Linked DNA regions of Homo sapiens: region 1 is linked to region 2. The links come from fine-mapping of genetic effects on gene expression. A gene starts in region 2. The other region holds a variant in brackets. All regions are shown on one strand. Distances are from middle to middle.

Evidence for each region. PIP is the estimated chance that this variant, and not a neighbour inherited with it, causes the effect.
Region 1: its variant is fine-mapped to the expression of MYO3B in tibial artery (GTEx, PIP above 0.99).

The regions. Positions count from the first base shown.
Region 1 is chr2:170,372,121-170,384,129 of GRCh38, forward strand. MYO3B (myosin IIIB) reads left to right here. Exons shown (of 35, transcript NM_138995.5): 10 at 9,896-9,992; 11 at 10,953-11,069; 12 at 11,590-11,694. Among named protein-coding and RNA genes, the nearest start is that of MYO3B-AS1, 27 kb to the left of the region's middle. The variant C/G (reference allele first, on the strand shown) is at 5,605.
Region 2 is chr2:170,172,085-170,184,093 of GRCh38, forward strand. It overlaps MYO3B (myosin IIIB), which reads left to right and starts at 6,063. Exons shown (of 35, transcript NM_138995.5): 1 at 6,063-6,205. The coding sequence starts at 6,204. RefSeq lists an enhancer at 8,245-8,474.

The DNA.
Region 1 (12,009 bases), 200 kb after region 2:
AAAAAAAAAAAAAAAAAAAAAAAAACAACAACAACAAAGAAAAAAATCTATTGCTCTGCCAGGTTTGGATCTCAGGCCAGCCACTAACTGGATAAGTTTTTAATCTTTCTCTTCCAAAGTTTCTTCTATAAAACGGGGGTTATTTTGAGGGTTAAGTGAGTCAATACATGTAAAATGCTTAGAATAATGCAACCTCCATAAATGTTAGTAGTAGAAGTAGTGTACAAGGTCTATTTAATTCTGAGTCTTTCATTTCTTTTTAACACTAACTACCTCTTGCCCATAATCTGTGCAAATTCATCTTTTTACTTACTGTACAAGATCATGAAAATAAACACTACTGAGGTACTGAATGTTTAAAATATCCCATTTTATCTCTTATTCAATATCTAATTTATTCATTCAAGAGGCATTTATACATGTGTATGTGTCAGGCCCTATGCTGAACAGAGGGACTACAAAGGCAAATCAGATGCAGTTCCTGATAAAGAGCTAATAGTCTGGTGTGTGATAGAGACAAGAATCAGGTGAGAACAGTTCAAAATGAAAAGTACCTAGATAAAGGAATGCCTGGGATACCTCTCAGAGCACCTGGTAAAGACACCTAAGTCAGTCTGGGGTTGGGATGGTAGGGGAAGATGCCCTGGAGCTGCTGGGTAGATGATCCTTGAACTGCCCTGAAGAACAAATCAAAGATAGTCAAGGAAAGGGGGTTATTCGGGGTAGAGGGGAAAGAAAGAGCAATGAGCAAAGGGCAAGGCACAAGGGCTAGAGAGAGCTTGGGGAATCTGGTGAACAATTAGTTGACATGGCTGGAGCTTGGCATGGGGTAGGTGGGAGGGAGAGACAAGGTAGACAGGAGCCACGTCACCATGGGCCTAAGGAGCTTGAATTTGTTTCTTAGGTGCTAGGGAGCCATTGAAGAGTTCCAGAAAGTTGTTCTGATTGCAGTATGGAGAATGAAGCAGGGTAAGGCTGCAGCCAGGGAACTAGTGAGCAGATCATAGTAATTACAAATGGCAGAAGATATTAAAATAATGATATTGTCAGGACTTAGTGATGGATTGATTGAGGGAGATTAGGGAAACAGAGAAGTGTGTTGGGGCCTACCCAAACTGGGCTGCCTCCCTGGCCTGGTTCACAATGCAATCATGTAGAAATTGCAAGACACGTCTTCATAGTCTATCAAATGCAATGCCAAGTACTTCCAGATATTACACAAAGCTTCCAGCTTTCTGCCCAAAAGAGAGTTCTTCAATGGTCTAGGCAGTCCTGGGCCCTCCAGCTGTAGCAACTCTTTTTGGATTTGAGAGCTGATACAGAGTAATGAAACCTATAATCTACAGGGAAAACTTTCTTACCATTCCTGCAAAGGTAAGGAACGTTCAGTCCACTTTAGTACTTTTCCCAGGGGAGAGAGAAGTTGGTAGTTTGAGCAGGATGCAGGGAAGAATGCAAGTTCTTAAAGGATGGGGGAACACTTGGACAGGTAAAGGGGAAGGATATATATAGAGAGGGAGACAACGAAGACAGAAGAGAGAGGAAGCAATGGAGGAAGCAAGAGGGAGTGGGTCAGGGGCCTAAAAGGGAGGTTGACTTTAGAAAGAGAGAAACTCTAAGTTGGGAAAGACACAGAAAGGTTAGATAAAAGTACTCAGAAAACTTAGGAGAGGAGGCATTGTGAGGAAATTCATGTTGAATGGCCTTTAAAAAAAAAAAAAAAACTTAGCAAGGTTTCAGAGTTGGGAGTGGATTGTGGACTCCAGGGAATCGTTAAATCTTTGAGATATTCACTATGAGGAATATGATAAAGGGTCAGTTAAAGATCGACATCATGATTGCTTAATAGCATAGAAAACCCAGGTAGAATGCAACTGAATAGCATCCTATTGTAGTGAAGTTAATCAGTGTCTAAGATAATGCATGTAGAGCATTCAGGACACTTGGCACTAGAAACTCTCAGAAAATGCACCATCACCACTGCCGCCTTTCTCATCTGTCATCTCAATTAACTCTTAGCAGCAAGGAGTTAGGAGTAGAGAAAGCAGACATTATGGTCTTCTTCAGGCTAGAGACTGACTTCAGTGGACATGATGAGTGGGCAAGGAAGCAAGGGAATCGAGGTTAGTAGAAGAGTGGCCTTGGGATCTTTGTGGGTAGGGAAGAAAGTGACACCAGACTGGCTTATTGACTTTGAGGCTGATCTAGTCCTGGGACTGGCTATTACAACAAAGATGAAGAGCAGATTCAGTGAGGGGATGATGAGAAAAGGGATTGTAGAACTGAGATCCTAGGAACTTTTGATAGATAATTAGGAACTAAGGATAGCTGAGCTTGTGGGCAACTTCGGTGGAATAGAAAGAAATGTTTTTTAAGTGTTGACAGGTTGAGGAACTCTTAGATCAGATCCATCTCAGTTATGGCACATATTCAAGAGTATTCAAAAACAAGGCTAAGAATCATGGAGGGCTTGTTCACATAGAGCAGAAGCTGTACTGTGCTTGGAGGGCTTGAATTTGTAAGTCCCCTGTCTCACCTCTCCTGGGTCTAACCATTCAGGCTTTTCTGAGTGCTTTTTGGAAAGCCAGGATGTGATTCATCCCTATTTCACTCTCTCTATATATATATATGCATACATACACACACACACACACACACACACACACACACACACACACACTACAGATATAGATACAGGACAGCAGAGGCACCTGTGGAGAAGTGATATTGTACTATTTGAGATTTGATAGATACCATTACCTGATGCTGATTATAGTGTATGTATGACATCATTGGAATTTAAGTTTTTCCAGTAAATTATAATTGTGCCAATGCATGTATTTGATTCAGGTACAATAGAGCAGTTATTAATCCAAGTCTTACTCTTTTAAAGGAGTAAGCCCTAAAGGGCTAAAGAAGCCCTAAAACTATGTGAACAATGGGCTGAAAGTACATTGTTACTTCATCTGTTGGAGGTGTTTTTAAACTATTTGGTCATTTCCTTTATATCAGCACCTATTTCCTTGATCTGCAAAAAGACGACTTCTTCCCCAAACCAGTTTTGCAAATCCCTGAATTCATTAGTATCATCTGGTATGTCATCTCACTGTTAAAGTTCAGAGAAGTAGATTGAAAACATGCTTTGTATCATTTTACAAGGGTTATTGGGAGAAGAGTGAAACCACTCTCTGGAATGTGAGTGGAGGCAGGGAAAGGACTCGATTGTCTCTGCCACGACCATGAACTCAACCGTGAACCTCAGTAAAATTACAAGATCCAGCATGCCGTGCCCCTGCAGGTGGCTTGGTACTAGCTGAAACCACAGATGTTAAACCCTAAATGCCAAGGGTCTGTTCTAAGTATTACTTGGTAGAAGAATTAAGTTGCTGGGTTTTTTTTTTTTCTGCTCTGTTTAATGGGTTGTCATGTCGCCCTTGCAATTTGCCTGAGGCTGATTAAAACAATGACTTCAGCTTTTGATTTCTTTTCAACCTGCAGCAATGACCTTTAAAAACAGATTTCTCACTATTTAACTGCTAGTTTTCCCCAGTAATCCTTGCTCACTCTCTCCCTCTTCTACCTTCAAATATGTGCATGCATGCACACACACACACACACACACACAGAGCACCCCATATTATATACACTAATGGGTTATTGGGTTCTTATGTAAATAAGTAACTCCAGAAAGATTACTTCATAAAGTGCTGAAGAAGCTTAACACACAGGAGGTTAAATATCCTTTTATCTTCCTAACAGAAGAAATAAATCTATACCTTGCTATAATTAGTATCTGCTATCTATCTATACCTATATCTGTCTATCTACAAATGAGTAAGTTAGTTAATATTAATTTTATGCTGGTGTTACTGATTCTTGCCGCTTAGAGAAGTTGGGTATATCAAATACTGTTTAATATGATTAATGATAAGATGCTGATTTATTGGGATTCTGGCCAAAACGGTGCTTAGATGAAAAATGGGCAGATACTATAATAATTTCCACCCAAACAATTCTCCTATTTTAAAATTTATGCATTGTATTGTTTGAAAGACATAGCCTTAAGTTCAGGGTCAAGATACAGCTCATGTAGTTAAAGGTATCCAGCTGCTATCTCTGTCCATATTTGACTCTCAGTAGAATAATGTCATTCCTCAAAGGTCTGCTATTGTTTTTCTCGTTTGAGGTCCATTATTATATAGTTACGGTAAAATAAAAGTCCCTCTTTCATTGGCTCTGTTATCAAAGGGTATATTGAATGGAAATTAAGATTTAGAAGAAATATTCAACATCACTGACCTTGGTGTAGTAACAGTACTCTATTCTCAGTTTTGAGTAATGTTTTCTTTCTTGTATGGAATCCATTGAATGTAGTGATAAGGGAGTGATCCCTGAGTTCTCTCTATGGCCATGGAGGCTTTTGTCCTAGATTCTTGAGGACTGACATCTTTGAGCCTGCACCTTTTTCCTTATTCCCTCTCTCTATTTTTTTTTTTGCCTCTATCCGCAACAAATTTTACTTCCTTTTCCATCTGGAATCTGGTAACAGTGATAGTCATTCTCCACTTTTTGCAGTTCCACTCTTGGACGGAGGAGAGGGTTCTTATCCTGGGTGTGGAGGAGCAGAGGCAGAGGTGACCTTCACAATGGTGCTGACACAGGGTGACTCTCTAAGAAGCCAGCAGGCATTTCTCAGTGCAGAGATTAACTTCTTAGGAGTATATTGCTTGTTGTTATTATTATTAGGCTGAATTGATAAGCTAGAAGAATTTGTTTCCTTCTCATGTTTGAGTTATGATTTAGAGCACCTTTTTCTATTACTTGTTCTTCATCATAGTTGGGGAGTGAAAGGAAGAGCGTATCCTGTCTCACCTACGTGAAGTTCTTGCAGCTCTGTTTGTACCTACCTACATGGAAGCCTCCACTTCCATAGGCATAACTGGCAGACAGAAAGAGGCTAATTGATTAATGAGTCACTTTTGGGCAAAATATGTTTGTCAATATAGTTCATAGGACTAGCAGCTCAAACAAAGAAGCTAGCAGGCCCAGTGATGAGATATTAGAGAACAATGACACAGAAATGGTTTTAACCATAATGCAGATACAGAGATTAAACTAGAGTGAAAGCTGCAACACTTTAGGAGTTTATTTCATGAGAATAATTCTTCTAGTGTTTAAACCAGTTTGGTGTCCTCTAAAGCTCCTTTCCCACTCATTGGCTGGGCCAAAGATTTGAACAAAGACCCCCATCCTCTACCTCATCTATGCCCACTGTTGTCTTAGGGGAACTCCCAGCCTCTACCTCTGGCTCTGTCTTTCCCGTTCTTCAGATTCTATTCTTACGCTGCACTCATTTCCTTGGACTTGATGGTACAGACTTGCCCTCATTCCCACCCTACTTGATCCATGGATTCAGGCACCAGTTTCCCCTTTACCTGATCCCTGAAACCTAAGGCCCGTCCTGCTCTCCACAGTCTCCCGCTCCACTGCCACACCAAAAGCAAACTCCAGGAACCAGTCCAAGCCAAGACTTTCCCTCTAAGCTCCAACTCGCAAACTCTGTTTGTCTGAGAAGCCAGCCTTGGCAGCCAACATACTTACAAA[C/G]TCATAAAAACAAGTAGGAAATCTAAGAAAAGCAATATAAACTTTACTGGAATTTGAAAACGTCTTCTGAGCCATTAAAACTACAGTGCCTTACCACATACTTTTGATTTAGTAGAATGTTTTTTGCTGTTTATCCATTCATTTATCTATGTCTCCATTCCTCTGAGCTTTGGAATACTCGATCCAAGTAGCTTTTAGTTGGAGATCTGTAATTTTCACATTAAACGAGGAATTCTTCAGCAAAAATTGATAATAGGTCCTATTCTCAAGTAGGGCACTAGATGGAGCATGTGAATTTAAAGGAAATTAAGATCTATAGTTACTAATGACACAAATCACTTAACTCAATAAAATTAAAAAAATAAACCAAGTTTATTTTTATTAATTTCAACTAAAAATAGAGAAATATAAAACAACGTAACGCTTTTTATAAGCTTATGCAAAGTCTAGGAAAATGTTTTTAAAGGAGATAAAAATTGAAATAAATAATGCTTTTTCTCTACGATAGACCCTCCAAACCCCATAGCCAGAGGAGGAAAGTTAAGCGGGCAGCAGTTTCCAAAGAACACTAGTTGTGGAAGGCAGAAATAGTGCTACACATATATATATTTTTTCTGGTTGAGAAAACGAAGTGGTCTTTATCAGAGTAGAGAAGTCTTGCATCTACATCCACTTCTAGATTGCCTACTTCACTTTTAGGAGCAAATATTTCTAAAGAATTTGATCACCTGTAAGCATGGAAAGAGGCCACACATTGCTACTAATAGCAGTTAAAATTTTTAAAAAGTTATTTTTTGTTAATACAATATTATTGGGGAAGATTTTTTACAAGAATCAAGCTCAGATTTGCAGACAACATCTGCATGATTCTTGGAAGTTATATCTGTGAGACAGATTGGCATAGCACACAATCTCCTTCAGGCTCAGAAGATACCAATGTTGATCCTAGTGATATTGCATTGTGTATATTCACACTGAAAATTAAAACTTTCTACTAGACTGCATCTATTTGTGAGATTGCAAGTAAGGTTTGGTCCATGCTTCCATTTTTAGTTGGCTATAAAAATGTCATCCAATGTGAAGCTTGGCATTTCTGTATGCAGCTCAGGCTGCCATTAAATCCAGGTCAGGAGTTACTGAAGGAAAAAAAAGCCTGGAAAACTCACCATTGGTTCAGTGGTATTTTGAGTTCTGACTTCCTTCCCCAGTCTGCCTGTTACAATTTACTTCTCAGAGTCTTAAGATAGCTGCTCCATGCATTCTGACAAGGGTATTTAGTTGTCTTCAGTGAGGAGTGGAGAGGGCTTACTCCATCTTGACCAGAACCAGATCTGAGGTAATTTTTTAATTATTGATTTTCTTTGTCAAATGATGTGCAGAATATGCAATTATAAGATATAAATGTAGGAAGGAGACAAACTAGCTGAATTTAATATGGTAATTTAATTATTTCATGAAAATGTGGTACAATTTTTTTTTTTTTTTTTTTGAGACGGAATCTTGCTCTGTTGCCAGGTTGGCATGCAGTGGCTTGATCTCGGCTCACTGCAACCTCTGCCTCCCGGGTTCAAGCAATTCTCCTGCCTCAGCCTCCTGAGTAGCTGGGGCTACAGGCGTGCACCACCACGCCTAGCTAATTTTTGTATTTTTGGTAGAGACGGGATTTCACCATGTTGGCCAGGATGGTCTTAATCTCTTGACCTTGTGATCCACCCGCCTTGGCCGCCCAAAGTGCTGGGATTACAGGCGTGAACCACTGTACCCAGCCAGTATTTTGTTTTTTGATTAACTTCAAGCAAAATTATTCTTAGGTTTTATGTGAAGGGGATTTTGATCGGAAATATGTATCCTCCTGCTGTTTTATTTAACAAAATGGCTAGCTAGAGGCAGGCAGCAGCTCTGAGTTTTAGTAAAAATCTGTATTACAAACCAATTTGATTTTTCTTTGCCATCACCAATATGTAAAGTCACAGATAAATAATTCTGTTTAATAATTTTAAACTGCTTAGGTTATAAATTTGATTTGATTAAATAAAAATTAAGCTTCATTCTACTTTGGACCTTTATATGAATTAGCAGCAAAACTGGTTCTAGGACTGGAGATGACTAATAGCATGCTTCAAATATCTCTTTTCAAATTTATCAGTGATGGAGATTGAAAGGTAAGATTTAACTTAATAGGCTAGAAAGAGAGAAATCCATTTTATTTGGCCATTAATATTGCATTATAAACTCAAGACTCAATATGCAGAGCTGATAAGTTTGCTTCTTCCTTTTTACCTACTTTTGTGAAATGCATACCAAAGGGTGGGGTGTACATCAAGATTCCATGACTTCTAGCTGGTACTTACCATAAAACTTTCAGTCAACACCAGCTTCTAGGATCTAGCTAGATAGAATTGTATTGGTGGGTGATATCCTCATAAGCTGTGATGTTGATGGGCACAAAAGTGACAGAGAAGAATCAAGAAGTTATGCTTCTGGGCTAGTGAATTTACAGTATGTAGGACAGTTTATGTATGATTTTGTTTAGTCAATGATATTCAGAGTAATGTGTGTAGTTATGCAAATTGTTGATTCCAAATGTTAACAAGGATGTAAGAATAATAATTAGTACATGTTTTCAACTTTATTGCATTTTTATATCCATGACTATATGTGCTTTCACAGCTACCTGGGAGATAGACAGATCAGTTATGAGTAATTCTATTTATAGATGAAGAAAACCGATATACTGGCTGTTAAGGGATTTGCTGAGTGTCTCATACCACATTGCTCGCAACTCTGAAACTAGGGTCCAGAGCTCTTCTAGCCAATGCTTTCCTCCTAAACCGCATTGAGGAGTGATGAGTTTATGAAAGGAATTACGGGAAGGCCTACTTTGACCTTGAATTAATTTTAAACCTTAAAGAGCTATATTTTAGTATACCAGAGGGGATTATTACTGATTATCAAACAAGATTTTTAAATCCTTAGTGAACAGTGCCCTCCAGGAGAAAAACTCACATATATACACAAAAAGATGTGTATAAAGTTTTAAGTGTTGCATTATTACTAGTAGCAAAAAAATTGGAATCAGCCTAAATGTTGATCAACATAGGACTGAGTAGGCCGGGTGCAGTGGCATATGCCTGTAATCCCAGCACTTTGAGAGGCCAAGGTGGCAGGATCACTTGAAGCCAGAAGTTTGAGATTAGCCTGGACAACAAAGCAAAACTCCATCTCTACAAAAAATAATTTTAAAAAATTAGCCAGGCACAATAGTGCATACTTCTAGTACCAGCTAGTTGAGAGGCTGAGTGGGGAGGGTTGCTTGAGCCCAAGAGTTTGAGGCTGCAGTGAGCTATGACTATGCCACTGCATTTCAGCCTGGTGACAGAGCAAGACCCCATCTCTAAAAATTACTAAATAAATAAATAAAATTTTAAAAACAACAACCCCCCCCATCGGACTGAGTAAATAAATAGGTACATATTCATAAAGTATAATACTACCCAGTGATTAAAGTGACTGAACTAGGTAGGTAGGTAAGTGGGTAAGGTAGATAGGTAGATAGATAGATAAATAGAGTTTAAAAATCATAATGTTTAATGAAAAAAGTAAGCTTACAGTATAAAACCTAAGTATGATATCATTTTTATAACTAAACATACAGAACCTGTATATTGCTCATGGGTATCTATAGGCATATGACCAATATTTAAAAATAGACTGGAAGGAAACCCATCAAATAGTGGTCACCTCAGGAGAGAGGAGTGGGATGGGACAAGGGTCACAAAGGGATTTCACATGAATAAGAAAAAACATAAACAGTGATCAATTATTTGGTATTTACTATATTAATCTCTGAAAGTGTTACGTAGGTTAAAAACTATCACAAAAGTTGGGGGTGGTGCTGGTAGATAAAGCAAGGGGACCTCAAGGGAAGTAAGGCACTTATGGCTATACCCCAGTGAGAACTATGTGCCTGACACTGAGCAGAAGTCAGAGGTGTTTATTCTGGAAGTGCTGTCTTTGGCATTTAAGAAAAGCAAGTATGTGTATTAGGTGGGCCCATTTGGTAACACTCCTCACTCTGGCAGGAAGTAGACTTGAACTATGGAGATCACTTTATCCCAATAGTTCTACAGTGGCAGGAAAAGCCTGGGGACCTGGACTGGACTTCCTGTCCCTGTCTCTGAAGTCTCTGAACATATCACGTGATAAGATTGTGAATGAGCCATGCTTGCTGCCCGCTTTCTGCTACATTATTTGCTGTCTTAATGCTTAAACTCTCTTGATAAATTTCTAGGCATGAGAGGATGCATACCAGAAGACCTTATCATGTGGAAGATGCTGAAAAATACTGCCTTGAGGATGATTTGGTCAACCTAGAGGTTCTGGATGAGGTACTAAATATTTAGTAGACAATTCTCATTGAAGACATTTGTTTCATGTGAATGGTCTGAACTTTCTGTTGTAGACCATGTCCTCCTAAGGTCATTTGAAAATTTAATTGTTTGTGTAGCTATGGGATGAAGTTCAGGGAGCATTCAGTTGCTGTGACTATGATCCTGTGCTGTGTTTATTTAGATAGCCCCTAGAATGATGAAGAGAAAAGGATTTGGATTTTTGCAATAAAGCTCTTTATATTGTAGCCTTAATGATGGATTATATCAGCTGAAAATATTTTGTTTGATAAAATTTGATAAAATATTTCAATTAACCCTTAAGAAGTTGTTTGTTCTTCATAAGAAAGAGCTTCATTTAGGGAAATAGTGAAGTTAATATAGCTTGAATTCTAAATTTGAAGTCTGTGATAATCCCCATTTAAAATATGCATGTTTAATAGAGCTGTTAATTGCACTGGACCTGTTTATGCTGAGTCTAACTCTGGGGATTGTTACCTTCAATGTCTAAATCACTAAAGTGTAATACAAAGTGGTTAATTCTGTATTTATGCCACCTAGGTTTTAAGTGCAGTGCTTTGAGAAATTAACTTACCATTCTGTCGGTGCTCTATCAGTAGGAACAGCCTATTAAATAAAATTTTAAATACAACATTTTGACTGGTTGAGATGAGTTTTTTTTTCACAATAACAAGTAAAATCTTTGTTGGATATCTCAGTGTCTTTTAGCAAGTCCTAAGTGGGCCTAATTCTTTCAGTGTATTCCTATTTTTTCTTTCAAGGCAAATATTGGCATTGTTTTAATGAATTGGGATCATTAGGGTCATTGTATGATTTAAATGGACTACTTTCATCGTTTAGAGAAAGATGTTCTTGGAAGAATAAATTTGTTGTCATTTTTAGAATCTATCCCTTGACTGGGAATAATATTTACCTCAATACCATTTATCCTCTTCTTAGGATACAATTATCCATCAGTTGCAGAAACGTTATGCAGACTTGCTAATTTACACATATGTTGGAGACATCTTAATTGCCTTAAACCCCTTCCAGAATCTAAGCATATACTCTCCACAGGTAAGGGATGTTTTAAGAGCATACTGCTCCTTAATAGGAAATTAAAACTCACAAGGGCAAATGAAGAGAAAGAAAAAGTAAGAATAAAATTATGCTACCCTAGATGTATATACTCCAAACTGCAGATAGTAATGTAATACAAATGGAATTTTTACATCTTGAGAATACCTTTTTAAAGCAAACTATAGCAATAATAGTTAACATTTATTGCGTGCTTACTGCGTGTTAGACACTGGGTTATCTCACTTTTTCACACCCTGTGGGACAGGTACTGTTGTTAAACCTAGTTGGCAGACAGGGAGACTTAGCATAGAGTGAACTCCCTCTTACTAGCTCATGAAGCCAGTAAGTATAGAAGTGAAATTTGAACTCAGTCCTGCAGGCTCCAGAACCTATACCCTACAGTCTTCCTAATGCAACAAGTACCCTAATAAGTGACAGATTCTTGGTTTCATGGGCAATAGGTAGTGGAGTATTAGATGGTCCAGGGGAGAGTTTCCTTTAATTATTTTTCCTTCAGTTTTCCAGACTTTATCATGGGGTGAAACGCGCCTCCAATCCCCCCCACATATTTGCATCAGCAGATGCTGCTTACCAGTGCATGGTTACTCTCAGCAAAGACCAGGTAAGAACTCACCTTCCTTTCCTACGGAGTCACCCAGTTAAGACATGTTGTGTCTTCCTCGTCAACTCCTAAGTCTTCCTGAAACCTTTCCATTCCGGTTGCTGGTGCTGACCCAAAGAGACAGGAGATGAAGTGGCAGCTCTGTGGAACTTGAGCATAGGTAAAGCCATAGCATCGGGAGAATGTGAAAATGCTTTTCAAGAAACATAAAACAGTCACATGAGGTGCGCTCATTTTCTCTGATAAGATATAATAAAAATGTCTCTAATATGAATATGATGAGAACAGTGCAAACGCAACCTGATTACATGGCAG
Region 2 (12,009 bases):
TGGCTTACGGTAGAACCAAACCCAGACATTACTTCCCCCTCATGGCAGCTACCCAAATTTCAGGACTAGTGTCTAAGAATGTGAAAACAAACATCTGAGTTCTCTTCCAAATCAACTTTACACTCTGACTGAATTTTTTTTTTTTTTTTTTTGAGACAGGGTCTCCCTGTCATCCAGGCTGGAGTGCAGTGGTGAGATCATAGCTCACTACAGCCTTCTGGGTTCAAGAGATTCTCCCGCTTTAGCCTCCTGAGTATCTGGGACTACAAGCATATGCCACCACATGAGCTAATTTTTAAATTTGTAGAGATTGGCAGGGTAGTTCTCCCTATGTTGCTTAGGCTGGTCTTGAACTCCTGACATTAAGCAATCCTCCTCTCTTGGCCTCCCAAGGTACTGGGATTACAGGCATAAGCCACCATGCCTGGCTTTTGGATTGAATTTCTGGAGAGTCAAATAGTTGTCTAAACATAGCCAGGGCCTTCTGGAACAGTCTCTGGTGACACATGCGTAAATGCTATGGGCAGGTGTGTATGTTACCACCTATGTGGAGAGCTGGTTTCTCCTATATTTTTCTCAGCACTTGGACAAGAATTTTCTAGAGGACTGGACTTTTCCATTTGTGGGTAGAAGTAAACGCTGGAGGGTAACGAGCTATAGTAGAAGATGACCAGAACAGGAGTCTGATAATGGGGTTCTAGACCTGGCAAAATGAAGGCAGGAGCGCCAGACCTTCTTGCATTCCAGGATTTCTTTAAGAATTGGATGAGATAACACTTGCAAAAGTGTCATGAAAGCTATAAAATGTTAACCCTGCAAAGAGTGTTATTACTTTTTAATAATAAGCCAGCCTGGATTTTTCATAATCTGAGAGTTAAGAACCCTACTGATTGGACAATACTACTGTGGCCAATTCTTGTGAAGAGGAGCAGCCTCTTTTGCTTTGTGGAGTCATTTTTTTTCTCAGTCATAATCATAGATGGCAGGACCAGGATTTGTGTCCACCTATCACTGGCCTTACCCTGCATGATCCTCCTTGCTCCCTAACCTCTGGCCATGCCTCAGATCTCTTGGTTCCAGGAATATTTGCTTGCCGCGGTGCTATCTCCACTTTGGGCCTTCACACGGTGCTTCCCTCTGCCGAAAACATTCCCCCGTCCCCTGTCCCTTCAGCTCACTTCCTCAGCTGGCTTTCTGAAGCAGTGTTTCTCAAAGGGTGGTCCAGCATCACCTGGGAACTTGTTAGAGATGCATATTCTGTGGCTCTTCTCCACCACCAGGGTCAGAAACTCTGGATGTGGAGTCCAGCAGTCTGTTTTACCAAGCCCTCCAGAAGATTCTGATGAATACAAAAGTTCGAGAACCACCCCCCTAGAGCAATGATTCACAAACTTTTTTGCCTCTTTGGGAAGCTTAAAAACTGCTGGTGCTCAGAGCCATACTCCAGAATTTCCAGGGAGAGGTGGGACCAGGAATCCATATTTGTAAATCTCTTCAGGTGATTCCAATGTGCAACCAAGTTGGAGAATCACCTCAGAGGCCTGATTTCCTTTGTCATGGGCTCCTATAGCACCTTGCACTTCCCTTCTGTAACACTCATGCTCTGAGCCCCATAGGGATAAGGAGGCTACTTTATGTCACCAGGACCTGCCACACCATAGGCACCATGGAATGTTTTTGTTTGTTTTTTGTAGAAACAGTATCTCACTCTGTTGTCCAGGCTGGAGTGCAGTGGCAAGATCATAGCTCACTGCATGCTCGAACTCCTGGACTCAAGCCATCCTTCCACTTCAGCCTCCCAAGTCGCTGGGACTACAGTTGCACACCATCATGCCTGGATAATTTTTTTAATCTTTTAGTTTTGTAGAGATGGGTTCTCACTATATTGCCCAGGCTGGTCTTGAACTCCTGGGCTCAAGCAATCCTCCCACCTTGGCCTCCCAAAGCCACTGGATGTTGACAGAATGAATCACACTGTGCTTTGATTACAGGGTATGTTGGAAGGATTGATTTGAAAATACTAATACCAAAAAGATTTCCACATGACATTTTCCAAAATATGATTAGGAAAGTAGTATGGAAGATCATAGTAGTTTCACCGTATTCAGGATGAAGGAAGATTGAGCTTTATGGAGAGAGAAGTATGGAAGTGCAGGAACAATCCCCAGGGATCTCTGTGTGTACCGTGTGTGTGTGTGTGTGTGTGTGTGTGTGTGTGATAAAGCAGATCACACACAGGTGATCTCTGTGTGTGCCCAGTGTGTGTGTGTGATAAAGCAGGCGAACTCCAGATCCACAAATTTTTAAAATCTGAAACTGGACACATTGTTTGCCCTGTTTTTCAGGGCAGACTTAATACCCAGAGATTCTCCTTTTACCATTAGGATTTATTTGTTTTTTAAGTATTAGCTGATGACTTTGGTTAAGTTCTTATTTGACTTAGAATGTCATTTGGAATTGAGGGATAAAACCCATGAAATGAAAATGTGGATATTAAAATGGAGCAGAAAATGGATTATTTGGTGCTGCTAAAAATTCATCTGTTTAGAGTAAAACTTTTTTTTTTTTTTTTTTTTTGAGACGGAGTCCTGCTCTGTCACCCAGGTTGGAGTGCAGTGGGCACCATCTCAGCTCACTGCAACCTCTACCTTCTGTGTTCAAGCGATTCTCCTGCCTCTGCCTCCTGAGTAGCTGGGCTTACAGGCGCCCGCCACCACGCCCAGCTAATTTTTGTATTTTTAGTAGAGATGGGGTTTCACCATATTGGTCAGGCTGGTCTCCAACTCCTGACCTTAGGCGATTCACTCACCTGGGCCTCCCAAAGTGCTGGGATTACAGGCATGAGCCACCGCGTCTGGCCTGTTTAGAGTATAACTTAGTAGGATGTTCTTTGGAAAAATTATCCAGAAGACACTCAAAAGTTAGGTATTTTCTTTTTTTCCTTCTTTGCAATTTGTCAGCCATCAAGTGTAGTGTCTGGCACTCCATAAATGGATGAAGAAAACTAAGAGGTTTACTTGTGGTAATTCATTTTACAGTGTTATTAAATGCTTTGCTAGTTTGAAATGTTTCTGCTATAATAAATAATTTAAGACTTAAAGTCCTTTCTTTTCAATGTAGTTCCTTCTTAAGGTGTTTTTACTTGAAGGGTGTGCGTGTTTGCCCGTGCACACATGTGGGCATGTATGCTTATGAATGAAAATGATCATGAAATTATTGCTCTTTTAGTTCTTTGGAAAAATAAATCTTATGCATATATTTCTTAGGTATTTTAATTGCCTTTGTTATGTAAAGAAATCCCATTCATTCATCCATCCAGTAGGTCATTTCTTTCAACATTATATAGCCACATGCCAGGCCCTATGTTAGGCATGGGAGATATAATGGTGGACCTGATAGGCATGGTTCCTGTCCTCCTGTTGCTGTGTAGTGGTTTTAGCACTTGCGAAAGTCATCTATGAGATTCTTTTGCTTCCGGGTTCTTACATTTTTATTGTTGAGGTGGGGTCTCACTTTGTCCCCCAGGTGAGAGTGCAGTGGTGTGATCATAGCTCACTGCAGACTTGAACTCCAGGGCCCAAATGATCCTCCCACCTCAGCCTCCCAAGTAGCTGGGACTACAGGCATGTGCCAACATGCCCTGCTAATTTATTTATTTTTTGTAGAGACAGAGTTTTGCTATGGTGCCCAGGCTGGTCACTTCTGCGTTCCTGAGTCATTCCTGACTTGATGTGTGTGCGTATATTTTATTCTTGACATTAATTAGCATTTTTCTGCTACTCTTGGATGAACTTTCTAAACACGCTACCTTCCAACCTTATCAGTACATTCAAACCAAGTGGACATCCCAGAATAAGGTGGTGATTCTATAGCAACACAAATTAAATGTCCATTCCCCAAAATGTCTCATTGGAGAGAACAAATAATACACCACATAATTAATAGATTTAAAATCTTCATGGTACTTTAGCTTCATTAAAGATAGCAGCTCAAGCAAATTTAAAATTAATAGATTCTATCTAGTTCGCCTATTGTTATTTTTGAAGTCTGTTACAGAAGAGAAATTATGCAAATGGCTGTCAGGCTATTGCTGCTGCACTCACACTAGGAATGCATTATAATTTCTTTCTTAGAGGAAACACTTATTTGGAGCAGACCAGGCCCTCGGTTCGTTCGCAAGAGGTTGTCCCTTCCTTCAGATGGTCCATTTTGAGCTAATAAGTACTATCAGGGTTGAGGTGGAGAGGCGGGGCTGTGGGGAAGGAAATTAGGATAAATTACTGGGGCCCAGTGGCTGAAAGGGCCTCGGGCAAATCCCTGGTGAAGACAGTCTAGCCAGTCCTCCTCTGCTGGGGCATCTGGTATTTTTTTTCCCTTGGGCCTGGGCAGGCTGTCGGTCACCTTCCAGACTGTATAGCCTTTAACTCCTTGTTGCAATGGAATCCTGCTGGCCTTCTGATTTGCCTTTTCCTGCAAAAATCTGCCAAGACACTCTTTCTCAAAGAAAATTTCCTATGTTACTCTACTGTTTAAAAGCCTGGTGTGGCACCCTCTCACCTTTGAGGAAAAATTCCAGCCCCCCAGGCTGCCTGAAAGCTCTGCCTTCAACTGACTCTTGTATACAAATTCAACTTCATCTCTTGATTATTTTTATAATTCTTCTACTGGAACCAGGCTGATCTTTTTAACAACCTGTTAATTTTAATAACCTGTTCATTTATTTATTAATTTATTCTGCAAGCAGATGGGATGATAAGTTCAGTCCAACTGTAGGAATCCATGATTCTACTAGCTATAATATGAGCAATTATTATGTGCAAATACTGTAGGAAATATAGGAAGATAGAACACATTATCCCCATTCTTAAGATTCTTATGACAGTAAATGGAAACACAAAGGCCATTATTGACTAGCGGGAGTAAGATCGCTGTCCTTTAAATCACCTTCTTCATATTTGCATTCTCTGTGTGCTGTTTCTTGGCTCTGGGTTTCTCTCCTGCCTCATCTACACTAATCCTTTTCACTTCTTCATTCAAAACTGTACCTAGATTTATCTGCTCCAGGAAGCATTCCCACTCAAGTCTTGGTCCTGGGTTGAACTGACTCCTCCTCAGAATTGATGGATATAGCTTATCCAGTGTTATTGCACAGTCTTCAACTATTTCACATGGGCCTATGTGTCATGTTAGCTGGCCAGAAAAGAAGCTTTCTGGGGACCCTACCCTCCTGTTTCTCACTTCCCCTCTCTCCCTTTTTTTTTTTTTTTTTTTTTTTTGAGATGGAGTCTTACTTTGTTGCCCAGCCTGGAGTGCAGTGGCAGAATCTCTACTCACTGCAACCTCCGTTTCCCAGGTTCAAACAATTCTCCTGCCTCAGCATCCCTGGTAGCTGGGATTACAGGCGCACACCACCATACCCTGCTAATTTTTGTATTTTTAGTAGAGATGGGGTTTCCCCATGTTGGCCAGGCTGGTCTCGAACTCCTGACCTCAGGTGATCCACGAGCCTTGGCCTCCCAAAGTACTGGGATTACAGGCGTGATCCACCATGCCCAGCACCACCCCCCCACCCCCTGCCTCCTCTTAACCTACTGTTCTGTATATAGCCCAGGGCATGCTACTGAATGAATAGTCACTGTTGAATAGTCACTGTTTCATTGCTTGGTAATTCAGATCAGAAACTCATGGTGTTTCCCCTGGGTTTATCTGCAGTTCAGAAAAGTGACCCTGACTACATGCTTTGATTATGCCCTTTGCTCACAAAAAGATGATTAGTTTTGATTGTGCAGCATTTGGAATGAAGGAATTTAATCTGGAATGAAGGAACTTTAAAAGGTTGGGGGAATATCACATTGGAACTGTTAAATGACATGCAAACAGGATCTGTGAGAATGGTTTTGATTCTGCTCTGTGTCCTGGTAGGAGACACTAAATAGATCAGGCTCACTACCAATTAGCATCATCTTAATCTTGCCTAATAGTGAAGCAAAGTCACCAAGGATTTGGTGGATTTATCAGCTCCTCCCACAATAGTCATCTGAGGCTAACACCTCTTGGAACCTAGATCGAAAGTCCTTTGGTAATGATGTGTCATACATTCTAGTCATCAAAGACACCATTTTCTGGGCCTGAAGTGTTCTGCTGGTTTTTGGAGGAATGAGAATCCAATCTCTCATAAGCCGGATTCAGAAAATAGGTCATCGATGTGAGTTGCAGTTATTTTCCTTCCAGCTTTCTTCTGTGCTTGCTTTAGATTGTTTTTCTGCAAAGGGCAGATGCAGCTGCCCTGGCTGGTGGGCAGTGGAGGGGGATGACAGCCACTCTGGCTTTGGGCCTCTGTCTGACATCACCCAGATTCCTGGGTCCTCTCAGTTAGCATTTGCCTTTTGTCTGGGTGGTTAAATTTCTCTTGAAGGAGTAGGATAAACACCCTCTTGAGTATTGCTTTTTACACAGACACACACCACACACACACACACACACACACACACATACACACAGCATAGTTCATAGTCACTTGATTTGCCACCTGCAGTTTATAATAGAATGGACCTGTGGGATTATAAACCACTTTATTTCTGCACAGAATTTCTCAGCTTGAGGCCAAATTGAAGGGCATTAGTCATCAGTAATTTGCAGATGTTTTTAATGTTTTTCACCCAAGAGAGGTTTCAGGCAGCTAAAGCTAAGATAAATTTCCTCATGCTTTGGTGGGGAAATGAAAAATCTGATCATTTAGTTAATCATTTGTAAGAGCTGTGGGTATGTATTGTTCCTTAGTGACTGCAATATCATGACAGATTTGTTAATTTGGTAACATGACAATGTAAACAATAGTAGATAAATTCCATTATGCCATGATTCTTTTCTTCCTCTCAGTAATTTTGTATATTCAAGGTTTAAAATCCATAGAACATTAGAGATGGAACTTAGAGATCAACCTAGAGATCATTGGATTCCTCTACCAAGCTCTGTCAAATGCCAGTCCTGAGTGTCTCCCCTGGAGCATCAGGATAAATAGCTAATGCATGGGGGGCTTAATAGGTGCAGCCAACCCACCATAGCACATGTTTATCTGTGTAACAAACCTGCACGTCCTGCACATGTAACCTGGAACTTAAAATAAAATAAAATTTAAAGAAAGGAAAAGAGTACATAATCAGTGGAACCATAAAGGTCAGTTCTAGTGGGAAAATTAGGAAAGGCCTCCTAGAAGAGAAGACATTTGAGCTATACTTGAACAGGCCCTATCTAGCAGCATCCAGATAGGTGGTTTGTGAAGAAGCCAGTTCCTACTCTTACGTCTTTACCATGGTTATGGTTTGAATGTCCCCTCCAAAGATCATGTTGAAATTTAATTGCCATTGTGAGAAGAAATGGGACCTTTAAGAGGTGACTAGGTCATGAGGGCTCTGCCCTTATGAATGGATTAATGCTGTTATTGTGGGAGACGGCTCCTAGTAAAAGGATAGGTTCAGTCTCCTTTTTCTCTCTCTTGAGCTCTCACTCTCTTGCCCTGTCTCACTATGTGAGACCTTCCACCATGTTATGATGCAGCAAGAAGGCCCTCACCAGATGTGGCCCCTTGATCTTGGACTTCCCAGCCTCCAGAACCATGAGCCAAATAAACTTCTATTGTTTATAAATGATGCAGTCTGTGGTATTCTGTTACAGCAGCAGAAAATGGACTAACACAACTATTATGCACTTGCTTATGTATTGGTTTGGAATTATTCTCTAATTTACTCACGCTTGTATGGTATGTGTTTCCTTATTCTGTGTATCTCTGGGTGTTATATTTAATATTTGTACAGATTTCCTCTGACATTTCACAGTTCAGGTTTCCGATTTCTTCTTTCTAAAATCTATTCTCTAGATTTGAAAGCATTCTATGATTTGTGATTCATATATACCATACTATAACATCTAGAAAAAATATTCTGAATAGCATACTGAGCAATGGAAATCTTCATCATGAATTTTCTAATGAGTATAAAATGTTGCTGGGCAAGTTTCTATTTAAATCATGCTCGCTAGGCTTGACTAACTGCAGACATTCACAGGGTGCATGCTGCAGAGTGCTTTACTTTCAACAAGGTAAGGCTGTACCTCCGTTAGGGACTAATTCAGGGTATTCAACAAGGGATCAGACTAGACCAATTTGGGGTTGTTAAGGAACTAAAACTAGCTCACGAGAAACTCAAATCAGCTCATGAAAAGAGGGGCTGCTTGGAAGAATGCAGTAGGAAATTTCATGGGTTACAAGGACAGACAGCAAAGCTTAGCAGGCCTCAGAGGGCCAAGATGTAGAATTCACAGTGAACCCACTCACTAATCCTCTTTGTCTCACTCTCTCAAGCATGGTCCTTTCAGTTTCTTATTTCTCTGTTTTCTTTTTCTTCTCAGGATGAGCCTCTGTTTCATATGGTTTCTGCTATCCTCTGACTTCAGCACACATTTGGGTCATAATAGTCTCCTCTGTAGAGATCTCTTATATGTTTTTTTAAAAAATATTTATTTTAAAAAGTAGAATAACATATGCACTAGCAAAAAACATGACTAAAAATGTGTAATAATTTTAAAAAGCATATAAATTTCTCTCTTTTCCAAACTCTCTGATTTTTACCACCTCTCCCTAAAGTTTAAGAGTTTCCTGTGTAGCCTTCTGGAAAAATGTATATAAGGATATACACATACATAGAGACATACACACAAATATACACATAAAATGACTAGAAATGCAAATATTCTTTGTATTTACACAAAAATTGTCCTCTCTATACACTATTCAACACTTTTAAAACAAATCTTAATTGTATATTTGGCATTCTTTCCATATTAATTGGCAGAAAATTTACCTTTTTTCTTTTTGGTGGTTACCTGTGGCTACATTGTATTTAATTTTATGTAACTATTATGATTTATTAGATAATCTCTCCATGATGATGGGCCTCTAGGTTGTATCTGGTTTTCTACTGAAAATAATACTATAGTGAACAATCTTGTATGTCTATCTACTTCAAGTTTAATAGAGTTTTAGCTCTTACATCTGTTTAATGATTAAAGTTAATTTTTATATGTGGTGTAAGGATAAAGATTCTTTTTTTCTTTTTGCATATTGCTCTACAATTGTTTTAGCACTGTTGAAAAGTTTTCCTTTCTAGTATGTAGAAATATAATTGAATTTAAAATATTGACCTTGTTTGTATCCTGTAATTCTGATAAACTCACTAATTAGTTCTAGTAATGTTTTTATAAATTCCATCAGTTTTTTAAATAGATAATCATGTAATCTTCAAATTAAGCCCATTTTACTTCTTCCCTTCTAATCTGGATTTTTAAATTTTCTTTTTCTTGACTTATTATTCTGGCTTCACCACAGTATTCAATATAAATGATGAGAGCAGACATCCTTGGCTTCTGATCTTAAGGTGAAAGCATTCGGTTTTTCACCATTAAGTGTGGTGTTAACTTCAGGTTTTTCCTAGATTCCTGTATCAGATGAAGAAGTTCCTTTCACTTTCTAGTCTGTTGAGAGATTTTTGTTGTTGTTTTTAAATTTTGAATAAATGTTGAATTTTTTGTGAATGCTTTTTCTGCATCGATCGAGATGATGGTTTTTCTTTTATGTTCTGTTAATATAAATCTAAGTGTGCTTTTTTTGATTATATATGTAAAGTAAATGCCTACCAGTAGAATTACAGAGACAAAGGGAATGGGCATTTGGTAGATTTTGACTAATAATTCCTCACAAAGATTGTTTACGCTTTCGCTCATGTTGTCTCAGAGTGCTTATTTCTCTTAACACTATTATCAAACTTCTAAAAATCTTGACAGTGTGATAGGAGACAAATGGTATCTCATTAGTTTGATTTGCCGTTTAAAATTTACTAGTGAGATTTAGCATCTTTTATACATTTAAATTTTTTGAGTCTTTTTCTTTTTTATTGTATATACTCTTGATAGAAAATTAGCTCCTGATACAAACCTTCTTTTCTATTTATTTTTTGGAAAAATGTTAGTACTTACAACAATTCTTTTGGTTGTAGAGACCTTTTTACTTGTATGCAATTATGTTTATCAATTTTTTTCTTAGGGCTTGTGAGTTTTCTATTCTACTTGAAAATATTTCTTGCCTACACCAAGACTATAATGTATTTAGCTATATTTTTTTAAAAAATTTTGAGCCACCATACTCTATTTTGGAGAAAGGAATGAGGTAGCAATCTGGCTTAACTTTTTTTCTGAACAGCCAGCAAGTTAAGCCAGCATAATTTATTGAACAGTATTATTTAGTCCATCTTTTGCCTATTGATTTGTAATGTGATTTTTATCATAAACCCTATTTCTTTGTGTATTTGAGTCTACTTTTGGTTTCTAGTCTAACGATCTGACTACTTATTTCTACCCCTGTGGCATAATGTTTTAATTACTCTAGCAGTATAACATGTTTTAGTGTCTGGTCAAATTATGTTCACTAATTATTCTTTTTTAAAATTTTCATGTTATGTGTTTTTCTTTTTCTGTTTCTTTTTTTTTTTTTTTGAGACTGAGTTTCACTCCATTGCCCAAGGTGGAGTGCAGTGGCGTGATCTCAGCTGTCTGCAACCTACGCCTCCCAGGTTTATGTTATTCTCCTGCCTCAGCCTCCTGAGTAGCTGGGATTACAGGCACCTGCACCACACCCGGCTAAGTTTTCTGTTTTTAGTAGAGACGAGGTTTCACCATGTTGGCCTGGCTGGTCAAACTCCTGACCTCAAGTGATCTGTCTGCCTTGGCCTCCCAAAGTGCTGGGATTACAGGTGTGAGCCACTGTGACCAGCCCTCATGTGTTTAATTTTCTAATGAAGTTTAATATCATTTTGTCAAATTCTTAAAAAAAAACAAAGCGGCTGGGCGCTGTGGCTCATGCCTGTAATCTAGGACTTTGGGAGGCCAAGGCGGGTGGATTGCCTGAGCTCAGGAGTTCAAGACCAGCCTGGGCAACACTGTGAAACCCCGTCTCTACTAAAATACAAAAAAATTAGCTGGGCGTGGTGGCATGCACCTGTAATCCCAGTTACTTGGGAGGCTCAGGCAAGAAAATTGCTTGAACCTGGGAGGCAGAGGTTGCAGTGAGCTGAGATCACACCATTGCACTCCAGCCTGGGCCACAGAGCAAGACTCTGTCTCAAAAAAAAACAATTATTTACTTTCAGACTAAATTTAGGAAGAATTGACATCTTCACAGTAAGGTTTTCTATCCAAGCATAAGGTATATGGTTTTGCATTTTTTTGGTCTCTTTTCATTTAATCCATTGATTTTAAGATTTTACTTTTATACATTCTGCTCTGTTCTCGTTAGGTTTAGCTTTGGGCATTTTACTCTCTTTAATTCCTATTAAAATGCTATTTTCTTTCTGGCTGATTACTTTTAACATATAGAAAAATATATTTTGAAATTGCTTGATTTCTAGATGCTAATTTTATACTCAGCTCCTCAATGAATCAACTTAATTTTTTTCATTGTTAAACTTTGATTTTCCAGGAATAAATCATTCCACTATTTATTTTATATTCACCATCTTCCCAGTGTTTATTTCTATGTTTTTTTGTCTAATCACAGTGGCTAATACTTCAAAAACAATGCAAAATTTTATAGTGTTTGTGAGAGATACTTGTCTTTTTTCTTGATTTTTATTAGCAATGGTTGTAGAAATCCATTATTAACTAAGATGTTGACTTTTGGTTTGAGAGATATGTTTCTGTGCTGTTTAAATGCTAGAAAGGAATTAACCCATTTGAATTTTTTAATGTTCTAAAAATTAGATATTAAAACTTACCAGATTCATTTTGGATTTCCATTTTTAATGGTGTTTCATACTTTGATATATTAATGGGAAAATCATAGTAATATATTCCCTAATGTTGCATTATCTTTGCTAAATTCTAATAGCTGATTTTTTTTCTGTGGTTTTATGTTTGTTTATTTTTAATTTTTAGTTTTTGTGGGTACATAATAGATGTATA